Linked DNA regions of Homo sapiens: region 1 is linked to region 2. Evidence: fine-mapped expression QTL. A gene starts in region 2. The other region holds a variant in brackets. All regions are shown on one strand. Distances are from middle to middle.

Region 1 (4,386 bases), 21 kb after region 2:
CAGCATTATTACTTGAAACCCAAGAATGAGTTGCTGAGTTTTGCAAGGGAAATGAAGATCCAGGAAAGACGTGAACTTGGAGCATACCCAACCTGTTGAAGTAGTTTCCGTGCAATGTAGATAGACTGAGAAGGTGCGGGTGCTGTCCTAGAACCCAAGAGCAGGAGCGCCGCAGGGCCTCCGGAAGTGGTGGGAACTGGGACTTACTGCTCCTCACTGGCATGCCCTCTGCCTCCCTTCCTGTCTCCCTCCTGTCTTTTGCTTTTCTAACTAGGACCCTGCTTCTCTGCTTGCTGGCCCTGTGGTGAGATGCAGCACAGCCACTAAACACAACCATGCCTTCCTGCTGGTCTCAGTTCCAGCATCCCCAGGGAAGGAACTGTGGCTGACCCAGCTTGGGACAGCTGTGGCCAGTGGAGGGGAGGGGAGGGTTCTGTGGAGTGACCTCTGAGTGAGGATGGGAAGGTCCATTCCCACAGGGGGACTGCTAGGCAGACAAAGCTGGGGTCTCCCTTTCTCTCCCTCTCTCAAGTGACAGGCAGAGCAGTGGGCAGGAGACCAGGAGAGTGTGGCCTCCCTGAAGTCCACCGAGTGGTTCATGGAGAGCACATGTGACACCAGTTCCCTGGAGAGGATTGGGGAAAGCCAGCCTAGTCTGACACCACCACTGTGTTCCAGCTGCCGTCCTTCAGAGTTGGGTTTCAGTAGAAGAAAGTTCTCAATAGGGAGTTCCTGGCTTTCTAGGGAAGTCCTGGGATAGGTTTGAGGGGTCTGTGATCCCCCTCAAATTGTGTACAAGAATGTGAGGTTTTATATGCCTAGGCACATTTTCTGGGGGAGATGGTCCATAGCCTCTCTACATGGAGTGCAGTGGGAAGTGGGGGACAGGTTTCTTCTCAAGGTGGGGAGCCTGTCTTCCTCCTCCCCATAACCCTCCTCCAAGCCTCTTCCGGATCGATTTCTACACAGAGTGTTGATTCAGCCAGATAAGGTGCACGAAGGTAACTAAGCAAGTGGGTGTAGACTTTGAGTTCAGCAACTTGTGTGGCAGATAGTCAGTCATACACGGTAGTGAATCAGAAACTCTCCTAGTTTCAGTGTTGACTATTCTCATCTGTTCATATGCTTATAGTGCATCTCGTCAGCTCACAGCCAGCTGCCTGCTTCTAGAAGGCAGGTCCTTTCACTTCTACTCTGCCATGTTTGTTGATTGCCACCGTCTCATATTAGTGGGGACTCTTCCTGTTGCAAGTTCAGAAACAGCTCCAGCAGCTTCCCCGAATGGAAACAGTATTGGCTCTTGGAACTGGGAATTTCAAAGGACAGCTGGATTTAGGGGTTCAAGGGGTCTCCAGGGCTTCATGTGTCTCTCTCTCTCCTGGCTTTCCTGGGAGTGCTGGCTTCCTTCCTAGGCCCTTGTTCTGTGTTGGGAAAGATGGCTGCAGCAGCCACAGTCAGTGCCCTTATCAGTCGGGATTGACAGGTGAGAGAAGCCATTTCTCTGCCTCTCCTCACCTTCTGAGTCTCATGGAAGGCCTCTCCTTGGCCACATACACCTTGTCTCACAGGTGGGAAGCAGGAATGAGTGCTGTCTCTGGCCAGGCCACATTTAGCTGCCTACTCTTGTGACCCCAGTGACTGAGAGTCCCCCAGACCCCCATGGGATAGGGAAAGGGCAGGGTCCCCATGGAAAAGAGGTGCTGGGAAGACAGACAGCCGGTGGCCAGCATTGCGATCTAGTGGAGGACTCGCCACGGGCGATGGTGAGAGTGGTGGCTTTCAATATGATGCCCGTGGAGACTTCACAACCAACCAGAAAGCCCTGCAGTGTTTAGACCCCTGATGATGTTTTGGCTCATCAGTATGGTGAGCCACCTGCACCTACTGCACCACAGGTGGCTCATTCCTGTGGTGCAGTAGGACAGTGGCCTAGAAGGTCAGGACTCTTCTGGAAAATTTTGCACAAGGGTCTTGATTTTAAACGAGGCCGCTAGTTGCCAGTGAGGCCTGCCGTAAATAAATAATGAGCCCCAGGCAAGCATCCACCCATTCTCAACACCTCAGGACACAGACTCACAGAAGCAACTGTGCATTTCTGCTCTGTGTGGTTTTAAAGCTTGGGAGGAGGTTGCAGTTGAATTGAGAGGCAGGCTGTTTTTTACTTAATGACCCGTTCTGGAGAGATTGCCGTGTGATGAGGGTATAAACATGCTTCCACCAGCCTGTGGTCTGGAGATGTGTACCGACCGGTTCTTGGGAGAGACGGCTGGACACACAAGGAGCCACAGAGCAGCCAGTGGGGAGGGCCAGCATAGTCGTGCTGAATTGTGTCTGGAATGAGCTCCCAAGGCTGTTCTTTCTAATCACAGTTCTCCCCGCCTGCCAAGCGCATCCTGGACTCCGTGTCTCCGTTTGCCTTGTTGAGTCCACATGGATGGCCTTCCTTGCTCTCTGTTTCAGCCAGTCCTATCTTTCCTCAAGGCCACTGCTAGTTTCATCTCTGCGAGGCCTTCTCAGCTCCCACCCTGTCTCAGGCCCTCATGGCCCGCTGGGATGGGCAGCACCTTCAGCGTTA[A/G]GCAGACTGGTCTGAGTGCTGACCTGCTTTTAGTCTGCCTCCGTCATCAGAAGAGGATATTCCTGCCTAACTCCATTGTTCTTAGAGGGTCATGCAAGATAAGGTGCACGAAGATGCCTGAGTATAGCACCTGGGCCATTTTCAAGGAAAGAGTGGCCTGCGTAGAATGACATTTTGTCCTGATTTACAGGACTAAATCCACATTGAACTGTAGAGTGGAAATCATAAAATTCAATGCACTTTTCATGCTGGAAGGGATATGATGTATTGTGGCACACATTTGATTATTTGGATCTGATGAATAGCAGCAATTTTCTGGCCTGGTAAGCGCTGCAGAGCTGCTTCATTATTGATGGGGCCTGTGTCCACAGAGGACGCCACTGTGAACCCAGGAGCCACCTGGCCTCGGGAGTTTTCTTTTATATGTGACAGTGTGATTGCTGAGGAAACTTGAGGCTCGCTTGAGAGGAGGCGCAGTGCTCCCAGATTTAAAGGCAGGGCTGTCGGCTTTGTAGTCTGCCGTCTGTGTGGCTGGTACGGGCAGCGTACATTTGAGGAGAAATGAAAAGGCAGCCCTTAATTGAGAGTCATTCTTGTCAGTGAAGAACTTGGAGCTACAGGCCCTGTGTGGCTGGGACCCCAGGGCCCAGGTCATGTGGGTCACGGCCGCCTTTGCTTCCCTGCAGCTTGCATGGGGCCGTCACCTGGCCTCAGGGAGCCTGAGTGGCCTTGCCAGTGGAGTGTGGCTCGTGGTGGCTGGCTCACCAGGGCGATGGAGAGGCTCGGTGAGCATCCACATGGCACACAGCCACTAAGTGTGCGTTCTCATCTTCATTCCCCGTGGCACAGTGCCCACATGTACTGGGTGCAGGTAGAGATACAGAGGAGGAAAGGGAGCAGAGTACTGGGAGACACTGGCTGGCCAGTATCTCAGGGTGACAAGAGTAGGCTGCACGACGGGGCCTGCCTGGAGACAGGGGCCAAGACCGAGCAAGAGGCCTGGAGCCCCTGCTGGGTGTCTTGGAATTTATCTCACACAAAGGGGAACCAGCAAAGTTTTTGAAGGAGGAAACAGACACGATTGGGATTGTTGTTGTCATTGTTTTTTTTATTTGTTTGTTTGTTTTTGTTTTGAGCGAAACTTTTTTTGAGTTTTGCTCTTGTTGCCCAGGCTGGAGTGCAATGGCATGATCTCGGCTCACGGCAGCCCCCACCTCCTGGGTTCAAGTGATTCTCCTGCCTCAGCCTCCTGAGTAGCTGGGATTACAGGCATGCACCACCACGCCTGGCTAATTTTGTATTTTTAATAGAGATGGCATTTCTCCATGTTGGTCAGGCTGGTCTTGAACTCCCGACCTCAGGTGATCCACCTGCCTTGGCTTCCCAAAGTGCTGGGATTACGGGCGTGAGCCACCGCGCCCGGCCTGTTGTCATTGTTTTAGGAAAATCGACTCTGAAAGGAACGTAAAGTAAACTCTGACGAGCATGGGGAGGTAGAGGCACGGGCAGGAGAGTCTGTGGGAGGCAGATGCAACCAGTGGGGCCGGCAGGGGACCTGGGTCTGATCTGGGCAGTGGAGTGTGTCCAGAGGGGACTGGCTGGGTCTAGAGCCCGTTGGAAAGCGGAATGGACAGACCTTGGGGACAGGTTGGATGCTGAGAACTCATAAATGACTTGGAGGTATCTAGCTTGGGTAACTGGGTGCGTGACGGCTCTAAAAGCTGAGGTAGGGAAGAGAGGAGGAGGTCTGGGGTGAGGAGGAGACAGATCAAGCATTCAGATGACTCGATAACTGTAATATGTACACACAC
Region 2 (4,386 bases):
CTCAGTGTCACCCCCTCAGCTATTCTTAGGCTCCAAGCCGTTTCTCACTACCCAGCCTTTCCACCACCCATCGTGCTTTTTCCTCCTTCTCTTTGCCTGGCAAAGTCCTCCTCATTCTTCATTTCTTTTTTTGAGATGGAGTATTGCTTTGTTGCCCAGGCTGGAATGCAGTGGTGCGACCTCGGCTCACTGCAACCTCTGCCTCCTAGGTTCAAGCAATTGTCCTGCCTCAGCCTCTCAAGTAGCTGAGACTACAGGTGCACACCACCATGCCTGGCTAATTTTTTGGGTATTTTTTGTAGAGACGGGGTTTCGCCATGTTGCCCAGGCTGATCTCAAACTCCTGGGCTCAAGCAATCTGTCCACCTTAGCTTCCCAAAGTGCTGGGATTATAGACGTGAGCCACCACTCTTCATTTCTTACCAGAAATGTGATCTCATGGACGTCTTCCCTCATCACCTCTCTTTTGATTGTATCTCCCATGTTATTGCTTCTCTCATGGCTCCCCCTTCTTCCTTCCCAACACATCTCATGGTTTTTAAGTGTACATTTATCTGTGTGATTGATTAGTGGGGGTGACAGACATTGACCCCTAGTCTATAAGCACAGTCAGGGTAGGATCCCACCTACTCACCATTGTCTTCCCAGTTTCATAGTGCATGATCCAGAGTAGAAACTCCATAAATATTTTTTAAATGAATAAATTATGCATTTTGGGTCCCCCATGCCACCTCACATAGTATGGGATTAGTGAATGTTGAGTGTATTATTTGTCTTCTAAGAGACTGAATTCCTTTAGGGCAAGATAGGTCTCTCTCTCTCTCTTTTTTTTTTTTGGAGTCTCTGGTATCTAACCTCTGTTCCTTGATCCTCTATGTATGTTATCTAGGCTGCATAACCAATTATCCTAAAACTTAGGAGCTTAAAACAATAACATTTAGTATTTCACAATTTCTGTGAGGCAGGCATTCAAGTGGCATTGCAAGGTATTTCTGGCTCAAGGTTGCTCTTGAGTTTACACTGAAGATTTTGGCCAGGCCACAGTCATTTGAAAGCTTGACTAGGACTGCTGGAGCCACTTGGCTCATACACATGGCTGGCAAGTTGGAGCTGGTTGTTGGCAGGCAGCTCAGTTACTCCCCATGCGAGCCTCTCCATAGGACTGCTTGAGTGTCTTCACAACATGGATTCCCCATGAGCAATCAAGACAGAGGAAAGAGGAAGTTGCAATGTCTTTTATGACTTTATCTTGGAACTCGTGCTCCAAGATTTCCGCAATATCCTATGGGTTATACAGGTCAGTCTTATTCTTGGTGGGAGGTGACTACAGAGGGGTATGGATATCAGGAGCCAAGAATCGTCAGGGTTTATGGTGGAGGCTGGTTATCACACTCTCATCTAGGTTTCTTTTTCTCCTACTACTTGCCCCCCACCCCTTCTTAATCATGGAACACTGTTCTTTGCCTTCAAAAAACTTATCCTGTTATATGATTACACATTCATTTAATTAGTCTGTCTCCCTCCAACGGACTGTAAGCACCACAAGGGCAGAGACTGTATGTGTCTGCTTTAGCACTGTGTCCTCAGTTACAAGGACAAAGCATAGAGTACGCGCTCAGTGAATGCTTTTTGAATGAATTATAATGATTTGCTTCTGTCTGAATTACAAGAGGTGTTTCTGTTTGTCTCCTCTCTGCATTGTAGGCTCCTAGCTCAGGACCTGGCATAAAATTAAGGAAATGAACGTGAGAAACACTTTTGAAATAGTGACAACACATCCAGATGAACATTTTGCAGGACAGCTACACACCCGTTTTAGCTCACCAGCTACCAGTTGTGACTGTGCTCTGCTCTGGGAGATGGCTTAGCTTTGCATAGGACAAAATTCTAATCTAGTTTCGCGCAGTTCTTACGAATTTGTTACAATGAGACGGGCCAAGCTATACAGCCCATTGCGATGAATAAGTAACTTTTTTTTTTTTTTTTTTTTTTTTTTGAGGAAGAGTCTCATTCTGTCGCCCAGGCTGGAGTGCAGTGGCGCGATCTCGGCTCACTGCAACTTCTGCCTCCCGGGATTCAAGAGATTCTCTTGCCTCAGCCTCCCAAGCAGCTGGGATTACAGGCGCCCGCCACCACGCCCGGCTAATTTTTGTATTTTTGGTAGAGACGGGGTTTCACCATGTTGACCAGGCTGGTCTCGAACTCCTGACCTCAAGTGATCCGTCCGCCTCGGCCTCCCAAAGTGCTGGGATTACAGGCGTGAGCCACCGTGCCCAGCCCCGAGAAGTAATTTCTTTTGTTTTCTTTTTAATTAAACAAAAATGTTGCTGAAACGAGCTGAGTGATATAGGAGCTTAAAGAATTGACAAGCTCTAGATTTCATTTCCCCAAACCTCTTTGTCCAGCTCGAACCCACAGAACAGGGACAAAAGTCGACAAAACCCAGCGGTGCCTCACCCAGAAACCTGGCAACGCGGGCGGAACAGAGCCGGTTGGTTGCTCAGTGCGCGTCACTTCCGGGACTCAGGGTCGCAGGGAACTACTTCCGGGGGAGCGGCGCGGCGGCGCGGGAGGTGAGTGCCGCAGCTTTGCGGTGGGGTGGGAACCGAGAGAGAGCCGTCCTCGGTGCGGTGGCCTGGCTTTCCCGGCCGGCCTGTCTCCAGCGGCGCCGCTTGGTGGGCCCGGCTGTCGCTCCGCTCAGGGCCTGAATACGTTCCCTCGGCGGTTGTTCGAAAGTTACTTCCGGAGGGGAATTTGAGCCCCCCGGGAGGCGGAGGGCCTCGCCTGGGGCAGCCCTGCGCTTTCGTGCGGAGGCTGGGCCAGAACCCAGGGCTCCTCATGGCCTGGTCCGGGCCTTTCCTCCCACGGGTGGAGCAGTAGGAGAACCCTGAGCTCCAGAGTGAATCTGGCCAGGGTTCGAATCCGTATGGCTCTCTTACCGTGGGCAAGTCACGGTTCCTCTCTGGCCCTCAGTTTCGTCTTCTAAAATGGACATACACGCTTGTACTGCGGGGTAAACCGAGGTGGTGAATGTAAAGCCCTTAGTAGGTGCACAGTCCATGTTTGTTGTACGAATTCTAAGAGAAGCGAGAAATGAATATGAGAAACATTTTTAAAATGGTGACAACACATTTAGATTAATAATTATATTTTGCAGGGCATCTGCACACCAGTTTCAGCCCACCGGCTACCAGTGTGACTTTGCCCAGAGAGGTGGCTTAGCTTTGCATTCTAATCTAGTTTTGCGTGGTTCTTAGGAATTTGTTTTAATGGGACGGGCCAGGCTGTACAACCCATTGCCATAAAGCGGTAACTTCTTTTTCTTTCCTTTTTTTTTTTTTAAAGCCATTCTATTTATTTATTTAGAGACGGAGTCTCTCTCTCGTCCACGCTGAAGGGCAGTGGCGGGATCTTGGCTCACTGCAACCTCCGCTTCTTGGGTTCAAGCGATTCTCCTGCCTCAGCTTTCCGAATAGCTGGGATTACAGACGTGTGCCACCACGCCCGGCTAATTTTTGTATCTTTAGTAAAGACAGGGTTTCACCATGTTGGCCAGGCTGGTCTCAAACTCCCGACCTCAGGTGATCCACCCGCCTCGGCCTCCCAGAGTGTTGGGATTATAGGCGGGAGCCACCACACCCGGCTTTTTTTTCTTTTTAATTAAAAAAAAGTTGAAATAGAGATGGAGTCTCACTATGTTTTCCTGCCTGGTCTTGAACTCCTGGAGGCAAGATATCCTTCCTCCTGGACCTCCCAAAGTGTTTGGGATTACTGGCAAGAGCCACTGTGCCTGGCCTAAAACAGTAACTTCTGACACTGGTTTCTATTCCCCAGTCTGTTTTCAGCTGAATTTTCACAATAGAATTTAAAGTTACTTCATTAGAAGCCAAGAATGGCCTACCAGCACAGTACACAACATTGGGAGATGAAGGCCTGTGGCAGTCGTGAAATCTGAGTTTTTCAGTCTTAAGAGAAGATTTAGTATTTGCTAAGTCTTGAGAGCTATACTTGTCTCAGTGGTTTTTTATTTATTTGTTTTGAAATGTTGACCCATTCTTTTTTTCCCCAATAACCTTTTTGTTTTAGAATAATTTTAGATTTACAAAGTTATCGCAAAGATACTTCAGTGAGTGCCCATATAGCCCACGTTTCCCCTATTACTAATATCTGAAATGTCACAATTACTGAACCAATATTGATACATTATTATTAACTCTAATCTGTACTTTATTCACATTTCCTTAGTTTTTCCCTAATGTCCTTTTTCTGTCCTGGTATTATCCAGGGCACCCTATTACATTTAGTCATCATATCTCTTTAGGCTCATCATCTCTGTGATCGTTTCTCAGACTTCCCTTGTTTTAGATGAACTTGAGGGTTTTGAAG

Evidence for each region. PIP is the estimated chance that this variant, and not a neighbour inherited with it, causes the effect. A credible set is the group of variants that fine-mapping cannot tell apart.
Region 1: its variant is the best candidate, but not a certain one, in a credible set for the expression of MANBAL in whole blood (TOPMed, PIP 0.60).

The regions. Positions count from the first base shown.
Region 1 is chr20:37,307,787-37,312,172 of GRCh38, forward strand. The region is part of intron 2 of MANBAL (mannosidase beta like); the gene reads left to right. Among named protein-coding and RNA genes, the nearest start is that of MANBAL, 20 kb to the left of the region's middle. The variant A/G (reference allele first, on the strand shown) is at 2,576.
Region 2 is chr20:37,287,114-37,291,499 of GRCh38, forward strand. It overlaps MANBAL (mannosidase beta like), which reads left to right and starts at 2,542. Exons shown (of 3, transcript NM_001003897.2): 1 at 2,542-2,573. RefSeq lists enhancers at 2,330-2,439, 2,512-3,416.